Linked DNA regions of Homo sapiens. The protein of the gene in region 2 interacts with the protein of the main gene of each other region in a pairwise test. Each region holds a gene or a part of one and is shown on either strand. Other genes may lie near its edges. The genes, in order: IDH3A and SHMT1.

What was found.
Region 1: the proteins of SHMT1 (region 2) and IDH3A interact in binary tests that used the Homo sapiens proteins (3 or more experiments, as listed by UniProt).

The regions. Positions count from the first base shown.
Region 1 is NC_000015.10:78,143,506-78,153,105, reverse strand, and holds the start of IDH3A (isocitrate dehydrogenase [NAD] subunit alpha, mitochondrial precursor), read right to left. Parts: upstream 3,745-9,600; 5' UTR 3,703-3,744; coding exon 3,676-3,702; exon of another isoform or gene 3,164-3,675; intron 1-3,163. UniProt on the Homo sapiens protein: Catalytic subunit of the enzyme which catalyzes the decarboxylation of isocitrate (ICT) into alpha-ketoglutarate.
Region 2 is NC_000017.11:18,359,517-18,369,240, forward strand, and holds the start of SHMT1 (serine hydroxymethyltransferase, cytosolic), read right to left. Parts: upstream 4,035-9,724; 5' UTR 3,856-4,034; exon of another isoform or gene 3,833-3,855; intron 1,037-3,832; exon of another isoform or gene 898-1,036; intron 1-897. UniProt on the Homo sapiens protein: Interconversion of serine and glycine.

The DNA.
Region 1 (9,600 bases), on a different chromosome or scaffold from region 2:
AGAATGAAAAAGACCCGACTCAAACAACTGATTTTAAAATGTAAACCCATCCTACCTGCATATGCTGGGGGCAGCAATGTAAACCCAGGAGTGTAAGGATTTGTGTTTTGTTCACTGTTGTATCTAGTGTCTAGAACAGTCCCTGGCTCATAGAAGGTATTCAATAATTTAAAAAAAAACAAAACAACAATCAAACAAAACTGAGTCCAGCCTCAGTCACATCTCTATCTGAAGAGTTTCCAAGCCAACAAGTAGCCTTAATACTTGCAATGATCTTCTTTAAGGACCAGTCTTTTCCATGTTTGTCATCTCTCTTGCATGATCTTAGAATAAAGCAGTACTGCACCTAAGTCATCACAATGACCCAGAACTTTAAGTAAAATAAAATTTTCCAAAGCACCATTTAAAGGTTACTTCGTGACAAGCAGAGCATAAAAGTGACATGAGGCCGGATGCGGTGGCTCACGCCTGTAATCCCAGCACTTTGGGAGGCTGAGGCAGGCAAATCACCTGAGGTCAGGAGTTCAAGACCAGCCTGACTAACATGGAGAAACCCTGTCTCTACTAAAAATACAAAATTAGCCAGGCGTGGTGGCACATGCCTGTAATCCCAGCTATTCAGGAGGCTGAGGGAGGAGAATCACTTGAACCCAGGAGGCAGAGGTTGCGGTGAGCCAAGATCGCGCCATTGCACTCTAGCCTGGGTGACAAGAGCAAAACTCCATCTCAAAAAAAAAAAAAAAAAAAAGGCCGGGCGCAGTGCCTCACGCTTGTAATCCCAGCACTTTGGGAGGCTGAGGCCGGTGGATCACCTGAGGTCAGGGTTCAAGACCAGCCTGGCCAACATGGTGAAACCCTGTCTCTAATAAAAATACAAAAATCAGCTGGGTGTGATGGTGGGTGCCTGTAATCCCAGCTACTTGGGAGGCTCAGGCAGGAGAATCGCTTGAACCCAGGAGGTGGAGGTTGCAGTGAGCCAAGATCTCACCATTCCACTCCAGCCTGGGCAACAGGAGCAAAACTCTGTCTCAAAAAAAAAAAAAAAAAAAAAAAAAATTGACATGAGTCCTTTCTCCTCTCCCAGCCCAAAAAAGAGGGAAAAGACATTCACACAAAACTAGCTTATGTCTCTGTGACAGAAGACCTGACCAATCAGCCTAGACAACAGAGTGAGACCCTACCTCTACAAAAAAAATTTTAAATGTTAGCCAGGTATGGTGGCACACACCAGTAGTCCCAGCTTCATGGAAGGCTGAGATGGCAGGACTTCTACTTTATAGAATACTCATATGCATATATATATATATATCTCACATCATTTTATTTATATAAAACCTGTAGAGATAGGCATTATTGGCACTTTTCAGATGAGGAAACTGAGGCCAGGTTCATGAAGCCTGGACCAAAACCCTGAACTTTGGACTTCAGGTCGTGGGCCATCTTAATCCACAACTCATTTCCTTTTTAACTTAAAAACATGTAAATAGTGTTGTACATGGGTTCTGAGATGGGTTTTAAAAAAAAAATCTTTTTTTTTTTTGAGACAGAGTCTTGCTGTTACCCAGGTAGGAGCATGATCTCCTCTCACCGCAGCCTCCACCTCCTGGGTTCAAGTGACTCTCCTGCCTCAGCCTCCCGAGTAGCTGGGATTACAGGCGTGCGCCACCACGCCCAGCAAATTTTTGTATTTTTAGTAGAGATGGGGTTTCGCCATGTTGGCCAGGCTGGTCTTGAACTCCCGACCTCAAGTGATCCGCCCACTTTGGCCTCCCAAAGTGCTAGAATTACAGGCATGAGCCACCATGCCTGGCCACAACCTGAAATGGAAACTCAACAGAGGAACTGTCCTGATTGAAACCGGCATCCAGCTCAGCACCTCCACCATCCTGGGGTCAGCCTCTGAGCCACCTTCTGCTCCAATCCCTAAAGTGAGAAGCTGGCCCAGAAGTCAAATGACTCTGCCAAAGGTCACACAGGGAGTGCATGTCAGAGAACCTCATCTTCTGACTCCACAACCCAACACTTTCTGAATACCTACTATGAGGGTTTTTTCATGCAGATCACACTAAAGGCAAAACAGATTTACCAGCACAATCATTATCAAGTGTTGCTTTAGTGCCTCACTGTGAAGGCAAATGTACCTACCAAAGATGAATTGGGTGTTAAATGTAAGTTCAGAGATTAAAGGACTGAGTTCAGTTTTCACAGTGACACAGAAGTTGCTTTACTTTTAGGAGCAAATGTGACATAAGAGTTATCATCACAAGCAAATCTGGGTCTGAAGAGGGTGACAAAGTAGAATCTAGTTATTGAACAAAAAAACCAGTTAATGATGCCCATGAAAACCACTGTCTGTTGGAGACAGATAAACATATTGATAAGAAAGCTTCAGATTTTTGTTTTCCTTCTGTACATACCAAGTGCTTTCACATACATTATTTTATTTAATACTCAAACAATTCTGTGATGTAAGTATAGATATTCACAGATGGGCATATTAAGGCTTAGAGATGTTTAGTAATTTGCTTAGGGTCACACAGCCAATCAGTGGCATTGCTAGGATTTAAATCTGAGACTCCTAAATTCCAGTACAGAGATCTTTTCCTTAAATAACAGTGCATCTCTGGACCTCTCTTTAAACCGAAAAAATGGGAGAAAAGTAGTATCAAACTTACAGAAAAACGTTAAATTGTTTATAGATTTCTAGGGGACCACCCTTTCATAGCAACAGGAGACTTGAGGCCTGATGGCCTGTACCATCATTTGCTATGTGACCTTGGGAAATGGGAACCAAGACACCTAGGTTCCTCTCCCTGCTCTGACACCGACCTCCTGTGTGACCTTGAGCAAATTCTTCTTCAGGCACAGGTTAGTTCCACTGAGAAGCTACGGAACTGCATAGATGATCTGAAACCCTTTCCAGCTCTGGCATCTGAGCTGTCAAGGAGAGCTAAAGCGCTCCAGATTGCAGGATTCCCACCAATGAAAGGTAAAAGGAAGGCTCTGCTGGTCTCTCTCTCCGAAGGTTCAGACGGTAATTCCGAGGTGTAAGATGCCCTATCCTATGAAGGGGAAATAGCTACAAGAGCACTAGAGGTCTGACTGGGAAGAGCGCCAAAGGGAAAACAATCTGATAGGGAAAAGGGCCCCCGGATTCTCTCACCTGGGAAAACCTCCCAAGCTCAACGCCAGTGCCCGTGGCACCTGCGGTTCCCCGGCCAAGGGCCGCGCAGACAGCGGATGAGAGGTGTGGGCAGTGCTGAGGGGATCAGTCCCGCAGCAGGGCCGCAGCCGGGGAAGCGGCCCGGATGGCGGAGCCGGGACAGAGGCTCCCGTGACCTTCCCGGGCTCGGCGCGAAGCCTGGGCTCTGGCCTGGGCGGATGCGGGTGACGGCAGCCGGGTCTCGGCAGGAGCAGGGCCGGCGCCCCCCCGCCTTGACCTTGACGCCGTCCCCGCCTCTGCGCTGCTGACCCGGCCCGGGGCGGCCCATACACTGCGAGCCGGCCACGGAGCGCGGGGCACGGGCGACCAGGACCGGCTCCCAAGCTGTCCCCGCGGGCAGCCACCGCCTCCCTGTCTGGCCCACGCGCCCGCCCACACCCGGCACGCGACCGGCTCTCCTGCCAGCCCTCGCGGCCTGCCTGCCTGCCACACGCCGGCCTGCCAGCGCTCACCTTAGAGATCCACGCGGGCCCAGCCATCGCTTCCCCTCCTGGCTCCGCAGCAACAGCCGCAGCGGCAGTGCGCAAGCGCCCACCCCACGCTCGGAGCCCGCCCCTGCACGGCCACGCCCCCTGAACGCCCCGCCCCCTAGACCGCCTCAGGATTGCTTCGCGCTCGCTCGCTGCCCCGCCCCTGGACATTCCGCTGGCGAATCGCCGGGCTCGTCTCTCTGTGACTGGCCTGGCTGAGCGCCAGGCGAACCCGGAAACTGAGGGGCCGGCATCTCCGGGAAAGCTTCTTCCTCCCCTCCCTGGTTCATTGACTCGCTGTTAAGGTAAGACGTTTGTTCCACACCTACTAGGTGCTGATTAATGTTCTAGGATCTTGGGGATATAGCGCTCCTCATAGAATTTACAATCCCGTGGAGAAAGACACATAATTTTCTTATTCCACAAATTTTGATTTTTTTTTTTTTTTTGAGACCGGGTCTCACTCTGTCGCCCAGGCTGGAGTGCAGTAGCGCGAACAGGTTCACTACAAAGCCTCGACCTCCTGGGATCAAGTAATTACTAAGCCCAGCCCAACTTTGTTTTTTCTTTTCTTTTTCTTTTTTTTTTTTTTTTTTTTTCTCCGTAGAGATGGGGCCTCGCTATGTTGCTCAGGCTGGTCTGGAACTCCAGAGTTCAAGCGATCTGCTTGCCCCAGGCTCACAAAGTGAGCCACTGCGACTGGCCGAATTTTATTTTTTACCAGCTTTATTGAGGTATAATGTATATATAGTAACATTTACTCACTGTAAGTGTACAGTTTGATGATTTTTAGTAAATGTAAACAGTTGCACAACCATCACCACAATCCAGTTTTTGAGCATATGAAAATGTTCCTTGTGTCCGTTTATAGTCAATCCCGCTCCTGTCCTCAATCCCAGGCAACTACTAATCTGTCTATTTAGCTCAACAAATATTTCTGAGGGTCAACTAGACACCAGGCACTGTTTTAAGTGCTGGGGCTTAGTGTCCAGTAGGAAAGACAGGCTTCAATCAAGTGTCACACACATGTCATTAAAACTGTTGCGCCAAGAAGCAAAAGAGCAAGGAGCTATGGCAAGGCAAAATCAGGCAACCTGATTCAAACCTAACCTGGAGGTCAGGGAATGCTTCTCTGAAGAAATAACATCCATACTCACCTTTCCCCTTGTCCTCTCCCTGTCCATCACAAACTCCTGAGTTCCTGCTGATGGCCAGGCCTCTAGCTGGGTGCCAGGGGAGGTCAGGTGTTTAAACCAGGTCTCTGCTACCCTACCCTGGGAAGAGTTCTATCCAGAGAGGAGCTGCCTACCCACCCAGAGAGGTGATGAGTGCAGTAGAGAAGTGATCCCAAGAGCTTTTATGACCTAAATAATAAACTGCAGCTAAGTCTGTGGCCTTGTCAGGAAGGAGGGCTTTTATCAACCCCTTTCCATTGGGCCCCTTCCCCTCATCAGGCCCTGGCAGTCCCATCCTGAAGTGTTCTCCCACAGTTCCTCCATCCCCAATGTCACCCCTGCCCTCCTTCGGGCCAGACCACCTCAGGCCCAGGCTCTTACAACAGCCTCTTCACCTGCCAACCTGCCCTCCCCTTCAGGCACAGCTCTGACCAGGGCTCGCCCCGGCTCTGAAACCTCCTGGCTCTCCCTTGCACTCTCCTCTCACACCACTGTCTTTTTTCAGCCTGATTTCCCACCACTCCTTCCAGCCCCAAAGACCTGGAGCGCCTGCCAACTAGGACTGCTGGCCAGCCCCCAAATGCTTCCCATATTTTACCTCTCCGTGCCTATGGTCGTGCCATTCCCTCAGCCTCAATGCCCTCTTGCCCCACTTCTACTGGCTGAAATTCTAGCTCCTTGTCAAGACTCAGCTTACATGTTGGGAAGTAGTAAAAGTTGTAAAAGCCCCCAAGACCCACGAATGTGTCCCCCTCTCCTTACTCAGAGCCCTCTAGCACTTGGCTCCCACCTCTCCTGGGAAACATCACATTCTCTTCTGCTGTGTGCCATTGAGAAGATAAGCTTTGGGCCAGGCGTGGTGACTCACGCCTGTAATCCCAACACTTTGGGTGGCCGACGCAGGTGGATCACTTGAAGTCAGGAGTTGGAGACCAGCCTGGCCAACATGGCAAAACCCTGTCTCTACTAAAAATACAAAAATTAGTTGGGCGTGTTGGCACATGCCTATAATCCCAGTGACTCAGGAGACTGAGGCATCAGAATCGCTTGAACCCACGAGGCAGAGGTTGCAGTGAGCCGAGATCATGCCACTGCACTCCAGTCTGGGTGACAGAGCGAGACTCTGTCTCAAAAGAGATAGAGAGAAGATATGCCTTAAGTCCAGAGATAATCTTGATGATCTCTTATGACGTTGTTTCTGGAACAGAGACTGGTACACAAGGAATACTTGCTGCTCAGTGATTGTGAAATAAACATTGACTGACTTTGTCCAGTCTTCATTTAATCTTCACAACAACCCTATGAGAAAACTGAAGTACAGCTAGTAAGTGATGATGCTGGCATTCACACTAGGAAGCTTCCTAAGTACTAAGGCAGTTCTCCTAACTGCTGAACTTTCGCTGAGGGCCAGTCCAATCCTACAAAGGCTTCCCAAGCCATTCTCTAGCAAGTGCACTGTGAGAACAAAAAATGAACAAGACCCACTCCTACCCTCCAGATCTAGTGAGGGAGAAACTCAGAAGTCTCAGATGGAAGTTGGGGGGTGATCAAGGAAGATTGCACAATGGAGATGGCATTTGAATCAGTCCTTGAAGAGGTAAAATGTCAGCAGCTGGAGGGACATGCAGGAAACAGAAATGACCTCACCTTGAGCTGAGATCTGTTCCCTGAGTCAGCCCTTGGCTCCAGAAGCCCCAGTCACCATTCCTCGAACATGTTCTAGAGTTCCTCCAAGATGCAGGTCACTCTCCTCTGGAAAAGCCCTTTTTCCTTGTCCCTTGCACTGTGTAGTGCCCAGAGATACCATCAGCAAAGTATGTTTGGACAAGACGGTGGGAAAACTTTGCCACTCAGGAGAAGAATCTAGAAAGTGCACCCTTATCTGTAATAACAAGCACTATCCAATCCAGGTGTGCTTCACTCTAAGGAAAAAAAAAAAGATTTTAAAATCAAGAGGCCAGGTGCGGTGGCTCACTCCTGTAATCGCAGCACTTTGGGAGGCAGAGGTGGGTGGATCGCCTGAGGTCAGGAGTTTGAGACCAGCCTGGCCAATATGGTGAAACCCCATCTCTCCTAAAAGTAACAAAAATTAGCCAGGGGTGGTGGTGTGCATCTGTAGTCCCAGCTACTCAGGACGCTGAGGCAGGAGAATCACTTGAACCTGGGAGGCGGAGATTGCAGTGATCCAAGATCGCACCACTGCACTCCAACCTGGGTGACAGAGCGAGACTCTGTGTCAAATAAATAAATAATAAAATCAAGATAGCAATTTTTAAGTGAATAAATCAGCAAAACAGAATATACATTATTCACATACCAAATGTTTATTTTTTGTTACAAAAGAAATTCATTTCAACAGTTTTCCTACTTTATTTAAAATATTATTTTCATTAAAGATATGATTGGCAAAGGGTTCATCCCTATCTCTAAGTTAGGAAAAGATCCAACAAATTGGTAAAGAAGGTATTAGGACTTTAGTAAATAAATGGGAAAAGGGGACTGGGCGCGGTGGCTCACGCCTGTAATCCCAGCACTTTGGGAGGCAGAGGTGGGTGGATCACGAGGTCCGGAGTTCAAGACCAGCCTGGCCAAGATGGTGAAAGCCTGTCTCTACTAAAAATACAAAAAATTAGCTGGGCGTGGTGGCGGGTACCTGTAATCCCAGCTACAAAGGAGGCTGAGGCAGAGAACTGCTTGAACCTGGGAGGCCGAGGTTGCAGTGAGCCGAGATCGTGCCACTGCACTCCAGCCTGGGCGACAGAGTAAGACTCTGTCTCAAACAAAACAAAACAAAAAACATAGGCCGGGCATGGTGGCTCATTCCTGTAATCCCAGCACTTTTGGAGGCCGAGGCGGGCAGATCACAAGGTCAGGAGGTCAAGACCAGCCTGGTTAACATAGTAAAACCCCCTCTCTACTAAAAATACAAAACTTAGGGAGGCATGGTGGTGCACACCTGTAGTCCCAGCTACTGGGGAGGCTGAGGCAGGAGAATCACTTGAACCTGGGAGGTGGAAGTTGCAGTGAGGCGAGATCACACCACTGCACTCCAGCCTGGGTGACTGAGTAAGACTCCGTCTCGGGAAAAAAAAAAACAAAACAAAACGGGAAAAGGACCTGAATAATCAATTCACAGCCAAATAAACTTTTAAATAAATGTTCAATCTTAACAATAGTCAAATGCATGCAAATTTCTAAAAAAAATTATTTTTATTTAAAAATATTAATAAAATGCAATGCCTTATACCATCCAATTTATGGCGCACTGCTTGGCTGGCCTTATACATTTCCACAATCTCTTTGGAAAACAGTTTAGCAATGTGTCTTAAGAGAGACATTAACTGTTCTTACTCTTTCACCTAGTAAATCCATTCCTGAGAATTAAACTCTTGGGGAAAAAAATCCAGAAAGAAAAAGCCATCAACACAAAGATATTCATTATACAATTATCCTTAATTTTGAAAACTAAAAAGAGAAAAAAGCAGTCTAAATGATTAACAGAAGAAATGGTTATGTAATTTAGGGGAAATGAATGAAGTGGACCATCATGCAGCCTTCAAAAGTGATCAATGGCCTGGCATGGTGGTTCACATCTGCAATCCCAGCACTTTGGGAGGCCGAGGTGATCACTTGAGGCCAGGAGTTGAAGACCAGCCTGGGCAACATAGCAAGACATAGTCTCTACAAAATATAAAAATTTAGCCAGGCATGGTGGCATGTACCTGTAGTCCCAGCCACTTGGGAGGCTGAGGTGGAAGGCTCACTTGAGCCCAGGAGTTAGAGGCTACAGTGAGCCATGATTGCACCACTGCACTCCAGCCTGGATGACAGAGGAAGACCTTATCTCTAAAAATAAAATTAAAAAATAATTTTTTTTTTTGAGATGGAGTCTGGCTCTGTCGCCCAGGCTGGAGTGCAGTGGCGCTGTCTTGGCTCACTGCAAGCTCCGCCTCCTGGGTTCACGCCATTCTCCTGCGTTCATGCCATTCTCCTGCCTCAGCCTCCCAAGTAGCTGGAACTACAGGCGCCCGCCACCATGCTCAGCTAATTTTTTGTATTTTTAGTAGAGACAGGGTTTCACCATGTTAGCCAGGGTGGTCTTGATCTCCTGACCTCGTGATCCGCCTGCCTCGGCCTCCCAAGTGCTGGGATTACAGGCATGAGCGACCGCGCCTGGCCAAAAAAAACATTTTTAAAGTGAGTATTATGAAGACTTTAGCATCTTGATAAATGTTTATGGTTGAATGTTCAGAAAAAAATAAAAATTTAAACTATTATCTATGTTCTCTTATAACTTCTTTTTATATGTGAACAAAGAGTAGAAGGAAACCTGCTCCCTCCCACAGAATTCCCCCACCCAATAAAATTCAACTCCAGCCTTCTAGTTGCTGAGGCCAAAAGCCTGAAGATGAGCTGTTTTCAAAATAGGTTCAGTTTTGGACACTTTTCCCCTTGGCAGCTGCTGCCACCAGGGTCCAAGTCAGAGTTACCTCTTGCCTGAACCAACACAGTGGCCCCCAAACTGGCTTCCCTACTTCTACCCCTTAAAATCCATCTCCTGCCAGAGGGATTGTGTTCAAACATAAGACAGATACATCCTTCTCTGCCCAAAGCTGCCAGCGACATCCTGTCTCTCTCCAAGTAAAAGGCAATGCCCTGGCAGTGCCCCATAAAGCCCTAAAGGGTCTAGTCCTGCTAGCCCCTCTCTGAGCTTCTCCCCCACCACTGTCTC
Region 2 (9,724 bases):
ATATAAAAAATTAATTGGGTGTGGTGGCACACACCTGAGGCATGAGACTTACTTGAGCCTCAGAGGTGGAGGCTGCAGTGAGCCGAGATTGTGCCACTGCACTCCAGTCTGGGTGACAGAGTGAGACTGTGTCTCAATAAAAAAAAAAAGGCCAGGTGCAGTGGTTCACGCCTGTAATCCCAGCACTTTGGGAGGCCAAGGCGGGCAGACCACAAGGTCAGGAAATCAAGACTGTCCTGGCCAACATGGTGAAACCCCATCTCCACTAAAAATACTAAAATTAGCTGGGTGTGGTGGCGCCCGCCTGTAATTCCAGCTACTCAGGAGGCTGAGGCAGAAGAATGGCTTGAACCCAGGAGGCGGAGACTGTAGTGAGCAGAGATCACACCACTGCACCGCAGCCTGGCAACAAAGCAAGACTCTATCTTAAAAAAAAAAAAAAATTATTTGGCCAGGCACAGTGGCTCACACCTGTAACCCCAGCACTTTGGGAGGCCAAGGCGGGCGGATCACCTGAGGTCAGGAGTTCGAGACCAGCCTGGCCAACACAGCGAAACCCCGTCTCTACTAAAAAATACAAAAATTAGATGGGCATAGTGGTGGGCCCCTGTAATACCAGCTATGCGGGAGGCTGAGGTAGGAAAATCGCTTGAACCCAGGAGGTGGAGGTTGCAGTGAGCCGAGATCATACCATTGCACTCCAGCCTGGGTGACAGAGCAAGACTCCATCACAAAAAAAACCAAAAAGAAATACACAAGGCCAGGCATGGTTGCTTACACTTGTAATCCCAGAACTCTGAGAGGCTGAGACGAGAAGATCACTTGAGCCCAGGCGTTCAAGACCAGCCTAGGCAACATGGCAAAACCCTGTCTCTAAAAAAAAATACAAAAAATTACCCGAGCCTGGTGGCGCACGCCTGTATTCTCAGCTACTCTGGGTGGCTGAGGCAGGATGATCACTTGAGTCCCGGAGGTTGAGGCTGCAGTGAGCCCAGATTTTCCCACAGCACTCCAGCCTGGCCAAGAGAACAAGACCCTGTCTCAAAAAAAAAAAAAAGAAAAGAAAAGAAAGAAAGATGCAATAAATGGGTGCAAGGCTACTTTAGACTGGGTCAGGGAACGTCCCGGAGCTGAAATCTGAGCTGTGGAAAGGAGCCAACCATGAAATCTGGGATGAGAGCAATCTACGCAGAGTAAACAAGTGCAGAGCACCCCAAGTTCAAAGGCCAGACAAAGGAGAAAGTGTGACTGGCCAAGGGTCAGAAATCAGGCTTGCACACCTGAAGTCTGGGGAGTCACAGGACCACAAGAGTCAAGACCACCCTGGGCAACATAGGGAGACCCCGTCTCTCTAAAGAAAGAAAAAAAAGCGGTCAGGCGCGGTGGCTGACGCCTGTAATCCCAGCACTTTGGGAGGCCGAGGTGGGTGGATCACTTGAGGTCAGGAGTTTGAGACCAGCCTGGCCAATATGGTGAAACCCCATCTCTACTAAAAATACAAAAATTAGCTGGGCGCAGTGGCTCAATTCCTGTAATCCAAGCACTTTGGGAGGCCAAGGCGGGTGCATCACCCCAGGTCAGGAGTTCGAGACCAGCCTGACCAACACGGTAAAACTCCATCTCTACTAAAAATACAAAAATGAGCTGGGTGTGTGGTGCGCACCTGTAACCCCAGCTACTCAGGAGGCTGAGGCAAGATAATCGCTTGAACCCAGGAGGTTGCAGTGAGCTGAGATCGTGCCACCGCACTCCAGCCTGGACAACAGAGCAAGACTCTGTCTCAAAAAAAAAAAAAAAAACAAAAACAAAAATTAGCCAGGCATGGTGGCATATGCCTGTAATCCCAGCTACTCAGCAGGCTGAGACCAGGAGAATAGCTTGAACCAGTGAGGTAGAGATTGCAGTGGACCGAGATCATGCCACTGCACTCCAGCCTGGGTGACAGAGCTAGACTCCGTTTCAAAAAAAAAAACAAAAAAGAAAAAAGGGGGCTGGGTGCAGTGGCTCACATCTGTAATCCCAGCACTTTGGGAGGCCGAGGCGGGCAGATCACGAGGTCAGGAGATCGAGACCATCCTGGCTAACATGGTGAAACCCCGTCTCTACAAAAATAAAAAAAAATTAGCTGGGCGTGGTGGCGGCGCCTGTAGTCCCAGCTACTCAGGAGGCTGAGGCAGGAGAATGGCGTGAACCCGGGAGGCGGAGCTTGCAGTGAGCCGAGATCGCGCCACTGCTCTCCGGCCTGGGCAACAGAGTGAGACTCCGTCTCAAAAAAAAAAAAAAAGAAAATTGGGAATCTTAGGGACATCTTCATTAACATTCAGTAATACCTGGTAAGTCCCCCAGCCAACACAGCTCACTGCAACATCAGTCATTACAACATTGGATATTTCTGTAGAGGCACTGTTGCTCATGTGTGGCATGATCCTCAACGTCAGGGAAAAAGACCTAGTAAGTGAAGTCACCTGCAAGGTCACCAGCCTCCCCATGCCTCCAAATCTTACCTGGGCCTCTGTCACATAAGAGGATCCAGCCAAGGATCTGCTCAGGGAACTAACTTGTTGCACATCTTCTATCTCACACACATTTTGTGTTCTCTTCTTTACAGAAGAGGAAATTGAGGCCCAGGGAGCTAACTTGTCTAAAGCCATATAAGAGCCAGAATCTGAACAATGGTTTCTCTTCAGTTCCAAGGCCTTGTCCCAGGACATTGCACTAAATAAAAACACAATTACCCACTTCCGTTCCAAGTTCCCCCAAGTAATAAATTTACGTTATTTCTTTTCTTTTTTTTCTTTTCTTTCTCTCTCTTTCTTTCTTTTGAGATAGAGTCTCACTCTGTCACTCAGGCTGGAGTGCAGTGGCGTGATCTCCGCTCACTGCAACCTCCACCTCCCGGGTTCAAGCGATTCTCCTGCCTCAGCCTTCCGAGTAGCTGGGATTATAGGTGTGTGCCACCATGGGCAGCCAGGTTTTTTTGTATTTTTAGTACAGACGGGGTTTCACCATGTTGGCCAGGCTGGTCTCCAACTACTAACCTCAAGTGATCCGCCCACCTCGGCCTCCCAAAATGCTGGGATTACAGGCATGAGCCACCGCGCCCGGCCTACAATGTTATTTCTGCAAGAACCTAAACTGGTGTTTCCAGTCTATTCTCTGGGTAACTGCCCGATTGAAGGCCCGCATCTGTGCTGACCTCAGCTGGACCAAGGGTCACTTAACTCCCGGAATCTCGAAGCCAAGGCACCGGGCCAAGAACTTCACAGTGCAACATTTGTCTCCTAGAACAGGGGGTGGCAGATTGCGGGCAACAGGAAGAGCTCATTCCCCACAGGGATCTGGTGGCACGGGCCAAAAGTGGAGCGACCCTGCGCGCAGCCTTTAGGGGCGCAGGCTTTGAGAACCCGGGTTCTATTCCGGGCTCTGCCATTTAAGTTGCCTCCTTTCTCAGGGCCCCACCACCTTCCTCACCTGTAAAATGGGGGAAACAGTAGCACTTGACTTGCAGCTTTGTTGTGAAGGAGCTAGGATTGTTTAAATCGAAAATGCTCAACGAGAAAAGTGTTCAGTGGAGAGCTACTACTCACATCCCCGATAAGCCTTCGCATTCTTGCCAAAGGCCACGGGCCGCCACCCCATCATACCGAATGTGCCTGGAACTGGGGCGCTGCGGCTGGCCGCCGCCCGATCCCCAGCCCAGGCGCGACCCAAGCGCTCCCCTCCCGTCATTGCGGCTGCAGAGGGTGGGGTACGGCGGGGGACAGCGAGGACGCCGAAGCACCCCCCGGGCTCTGGGACGCCGCGGCCCTCGGACCCGAAGCCGCCCACCTACCGGAACACGGCCCGCGCACGTACCTAGCGACGCCTCCGTCCTACGCCGCCGCCGGTGCCACCAGTCCCAGACCCGCTGACCCAACGCCCCGCGCACCGCCGCGGGCCAGCCACGTGACCAGCCGCTCCAACCCCAAACCCCGAACTTGGCGCTGGACCGCTCGAGCTCAGGAAGGTGCACTCTGCGCGCCAGGCTTGGGCTTGGCCCCGCCCCCGGAGGCGCCCAATCAGAGAGCGCAGCCAAGCATGGGCCGCCACCAAACGCACCCGCGCTATTGGCTGCGGCGCAGCGGCGGGCAGGGCCTGTTTCTCCGGGGCGGGCCGGAGGCCGCGTAGTGCAGCTGCGCACCTGGGGCAGGGACCTGCAGAACTGACCCGCTTTGGCTGCAGGGCTGGTGTGTGGACCAAGATTTCCAGGAAGACTACACAGGGCCTTCCTCACTTAAGCCTGTCGCTTGGGCCGTGGGATTATGAGTGAATTTTGTTCATGGTACTACTTTTAGTTTGCAGGGTGGTCATTTAAAGTAGGACAAATGTGCGTCCAAACTGCAACATTATTACTCTGTAGGTGTATAATCCAAGAGCAGACACTTTATTATTATTATTTTTGTTATTTTTTATTTTTATTTTTTTGAGACAGGGTCTCACTCTGTCCCCCAGGTTGAAGTAGAGATGGGGGTCTAACTATGTTGCCTCCCAGGAGGCGGAGGTTGCAGTGAGTCGAGATCGCGCCACTGCACTCCAGCCTGGGGGACGGAGCGAGACAACGTCTCAAGAAGAATAAAATAAGATAAATAAAATACTGACACACAATAAGGACTCAATGAACATTACCTATTGTTAAGAATGATAAAAACCGGGGCCACATGTCAGGACCACCTGAGGCTGCGTCATAAATTTTTTTATTTGTCAAATGATAACAATAATTATTATAAGAATGATAAAAACCGGGCGCAGTGGCTCACCCCTGTAATTCCAGCACTTTGGGAGGCCGAGGCAGATGGCTTGAGCCTAGGAGTTCAAGACCAGCCTGGGCAAAATGGTGAAACCTTGTCTCTACAAATAATTTTAAAATTAGCTGGGTGTGGTGGCAGTCGCCTGTAGTCCCAGCTACTTGGGGGGCTGAATGGGAGGATCACTTGAGCCTGGGAGGCAGAGGTTGCAGTAAGCAATGATCTTGCCTCTGTACTCCAGCCTGGGCAACAGAGTGAGACCCTCATCATCTCGAAAAACAAACAAACAAAAAATACAAAAAAAACTTTTTTTTTTTTTTGAGACAGAGTCTTGCTCTGTCGCCCAGGCTGGAGTGCAGTGGCGCGATCTCGGCTCACTGCAAGCTCCACCTCCCGGGTTCACGTCATTCTCCTGCTTCAGCCTCCTGAGTAGCTGGGACTACAGGCCTCCGCCACCACGCCTGGCTAATTTTTTTTTATTTTTGAGACGGAGTCTCCCTCTCTTGCCCAGGCTGGAGTGCTGTGGCGCGATCTAGGCCCACTGCGAGCTCTGCCTCCTGGGTTCATGCCATTCTCCTGCCTCAGCCTCCCGAGTAGCTGGGACTACAGGAGCCCACCACCACGCCTGGCTAATTTTTTGTATTTTCAGTAGAGACAGGGTTTCACCATGTTAGCCAGGATGGTCTTGATCTCCTGACCTTGTGATCCACCTGCCTCAGCCTGCCAAAGTGCTAGGATTACAGGCGTGAGCCACCACACCCGGCTAATTTTTGTATGTTTAGTAGAGATAGGGTTTCACCATATTGGCTAGGCTGGTCTTGAACTCCTGATCTCAAGTGATCCATCCTCCTCGGCCTCCCAAAGTGCTGGGATAACAGGCAAGAGCCACTGCGCCTGGCCAACATAGTGAGTGTTTTTGTTTTTTGTTTTTGTTTTATTTATTTATTTATTTGAGATGGAGTCTCGCTCTGTCACCCAGGCTGGAGTGCAGTGATGCGATCTTGGCTCCCTGCAACCTCTGCCTCTCTGGTTCAAGCAATTCTCCTGCATCGGCTTCCCGAGTAGCTGGGACTACAGGCGTGCACCACCATGCCCAGCTAATTGTTCTTTTTGTTTGTTTGTTTGAGACGGAGTCTCGCTCTGTCGCCCAGGCATGAGTGCAGTGGCTCGATCTTCGCTCACTGCAATCTCCACCTCCCAGGTTCACGCCGTTCTCCTGCCTCAGCCTCCCGAGTAGCTGGGACTACAGGCGCCCGCCACCATGTCCGGCTAATTTTTTATATTTTTAGTAGAGACAGGGTTTCACTGTGTTAGCCAGGATGGTCTTGATCTCCTGACCTCTGATCCGCCTGCCTCGGCCTCCCAAAGTGCTGGGATTACAGGCATGAGCCACCGCGCCCGGCCGTGCACAGCTAATTTTTGTATTTTTCTCACAGACAGGGATTCGCCATGTCAGCCAGGCTGGTCTCGAACTCCTGACCTCACGTGATTCACCTGCCTCGGCTTCCCAAAGTGCTGGGATTACAGGCACAAGCCACCGCGCCCGGCCTGTTGTTTGTTTTTTTGAGACGGAGCCTCTCTCTGTTGCCCAGGCTGAGGTGCAATAGTGTGATCTCGGCTCACTGCAGCTTCCGCCTCCCGGGTTCAAGCAGTTCTCCCACCTCAGCCTCCCAAGTAGCTGCGACTACAGGCGTGCGCCACTACGCCCTGCTAATTTTTGTATTTTTAGTAGAGACGAGGTTTCACTATGTTGGTCAGGCTGGTCTCGAACTCTTGACCTCAGATGATCTGCTCGCTTCAGCCTCCCAAAGTGGTGGGATTACAGGCATAAGCCACTGTGCCCAACCCGTGAGTTTTTTAATATCCAAAGTAAGATTTCTGGGTCAAGCTTTTAGTAAATATTGCCATATTGCTTTCTACAAGCATTGTAACAATTCACACTCCCAGCAACAATTTAGGGAAATACCCATTTCCCATTTCTTCTCCAGCACTGAATGCTTCATTTTTTATTTTTTTATTTTTTTTAGATAGAGTCTCTGTTGCCCAGGCTGGAGTGCAGTGGCGTGATCTTGGCTCACTGCAATCTCTGCTTCCTGGGTTCAAGTGATTCTCCTTCTTCAGCCTCTCGAGTAGCTGGGGTTACGGGCATGCACCATGACACCTGGCTTTTTTTTTTTTTTTTTTTTTTTTTTTGTATTTTTAGTAGAGACGGGGTTTTGCCATGTTGGCCAGGCTGGTCTCAAACTCCTGACCTCAAGTGATCCACCTGCCTCAGCTTCCCAAACTGCTGGGATTACAGGCATGAGCTACTGTGCCCGGCCTACTGATACTTAAATTTTTTTTTTTTTTTTTTTGTTTTTTGAGATGGAGTCTTGCTCTGTCTCCAGGCTGGAGTGCAGTGGCACAATCTTGGCTCACTGCAACCTCTGCCTCCCAGGTTCAAGCAATTCTCCTGCTTCAGCCTCCTGAGTAGCTGGGACTACAGGCACCCACCACCACGTCTGGCTAATTTTTGTATTTTTAGTAGAGATGAGGTTTCACCATTTTGGCCAGGATGGTCTCGATCTCCTGACCTCATGATCCACACGCCTTGGCCTCCCAAAGTGCTGGGATTACAGGCGTGAGCCACCGCGCCCAGCTAAAAAATATTTTATTTGTGGCTGGGCATGGTGACTCAGGCTCACACCTGTAATCTTAGAACTTTGGGAGGCTGAGGTAGGAGGATTGCTTGAGGCCAGGAGTTCAAGAGTAGCCTGGGCAACATAGCAAGATCCCATCTCTATGAAAAATTAAAATTAAAAAAATTATGACATTTTGTGCTACATGATGAAAAAAATTAAAAAGAAAGAAAGAAAATTGGCCAGGTGTGGAAGTGCACACCTGTATTCCCAACTAGTCAGGGTGCTGAGTGGGGAGGATCTCCTGAGCCCAGGAGTTCAAGGCTGCAGTGAGCTGTGATCGTGCCACTGCTCTCCAGCCTAAGATACGGGAAAAACCAAAGCGTTTTTCTTTTCTTTTTTTTCTGCTGTCATCGTATGAAATAGTCTATAGGTTTCCATTATATCCAGTTACAGAGGGTGTTACTGAGTTACAGATTTTCTGCCTGCTGGATCTGTCCGTTTCTGATAGAGGGACATTGAAGTCGCCAACTATAATAGTTTCTCCTTGCAGCGCTGTCACTTTTTCAGTCACATATTTTGATGTTCTGTTGTCAGGATCATACATGTTAAGGACTGTTATGTCTTCTTTGAGCATTGACTCCTTAATCATTATGTAATGACCTGTCCTTATCCCTCACAACTTTCTTTTCTTTCCCTTCCTTCCTTCCTTCCTTTTTCTTTTTCTTTTCTTTTCTTTCTTTTTTTTTTTTTTTTTGAGACAGAGTCTCTGTCAACCAGGCTGGAGTACAGTGGCATGATCTCAGCTTACTGCAGCCTCTGCCTCCCAGGCTCAAGTGAGTCTCGTGCCTCAGCCTGAGGAGTAGCTGGGATTACAGTCGAGTGCAACCATGCCCAGCTAATTTTTGTATTTTTAGTAAAGACAGGGTTTTGTCATGTTGGCCAGGCTTGTCTTGAATTCCTGGCCTCAAGTGATCTGCCCGCCTTGGCTTCCCAAAGTGCTGGGAAGCCACCCAGCACCTGTCCTGTTCCTGATGACTTTCCTTGCCCTGAAGCCTGTACTGTCTGAAATTAATATAGGGACTCCTGCTTCCTTTTGATTAGTGTTGGCATAGTAGATCTTTCTTTATCCATTTACTTTTAATATATACATCTTTAAAGTGTAGTTCTTACAAGGAGCATATAGTTGCATCTTGTTTTTTGCTGTACTCTGACAATCTCTCTCTTTTTTTCTTTTTTTTTTTTGAGATGGAGTCTTGCTCTGTTGCCCAGGCTGGAGCGCAGTGGCACGATCTCAGCTCACTGCAACCTCTGCCTCCTGGGTTCACGCCTTTCTCCTGCCTCACCCTCCCAAGTAGCTGGGACTACAGGCGCCCGCCACCACGCCCAGCTAATATTTTGTATTTTTAGTAGAGACAGGGTTTCACCATGTTAGACAGGATGGTCTCAATCTCCTGACCTCGTGATCCGCCCACCTTGGCCTCCCAAAGTGCTGGGATTACAGGCGTGAGCCACTTCGCCCAGCCCAATCTCTCTCTTTTAATCGGTTAATTTGGACCATTGATATGCAAAGGAATTGTTGATATAATTGGATTAATATCTGCCTTTTTTTTTTTACTGTTTTCTAATTGTTGCTTTTGTTTCTTTGTATTTTTGTCTTCCATTCTTTTTCTGCCTCTTGTAGTGTTTTGTCTTTGTGTTTTTCTTTCTTTTTTTTTTCTTTTGAGACAAAGTCTTGCTCTGTCACCCAGGCTGGAGTGCAGTGGCACAATCATGGTTTATCGCAGCCTCAAGCTGCTGGGCTCAAGCAATCCTACCATCTTGGCCTCCCGAGTAGCTGGGACCACAGGTATGCACCACCGTGCCTGGCTAATTTTTTTTAATTTAATTTTTTGTAGAGACAGAGTCTACGATGTTGCCCAGGCTGGTCTCAAACTCCTGGGCTCAAGTGATCCTTCTGCCTCAGCCTCTCAAGTAGCTGGGACTACAGTCACATACCACCACGCCTGGCTAATTTTTTATTTTCTGTAGAGATAGAGATGGGATTTTGCAATGTTGCTCAGGCTGGTCTCAAGCTCCTGGCCTCAAGCAATCCTCCCGTCTCAGCCTCCCAAAGCACTGGGATTACAGGCATGAACCACTATGCCCAGCCATAAATAAAATATGTTTTAGAGTGTCTGTGTCCACTGATAAGGGCGTAGTCATTTCTTCCCTCGCCGGCTCCTGTAAGTGCTGAGGATTCCACTGCACTGACCCCGGTTGTGCCCTCGGGGAATGTTGAGTCCTAGCAGATGTTAAACAACATATGACACACCTAAGCAT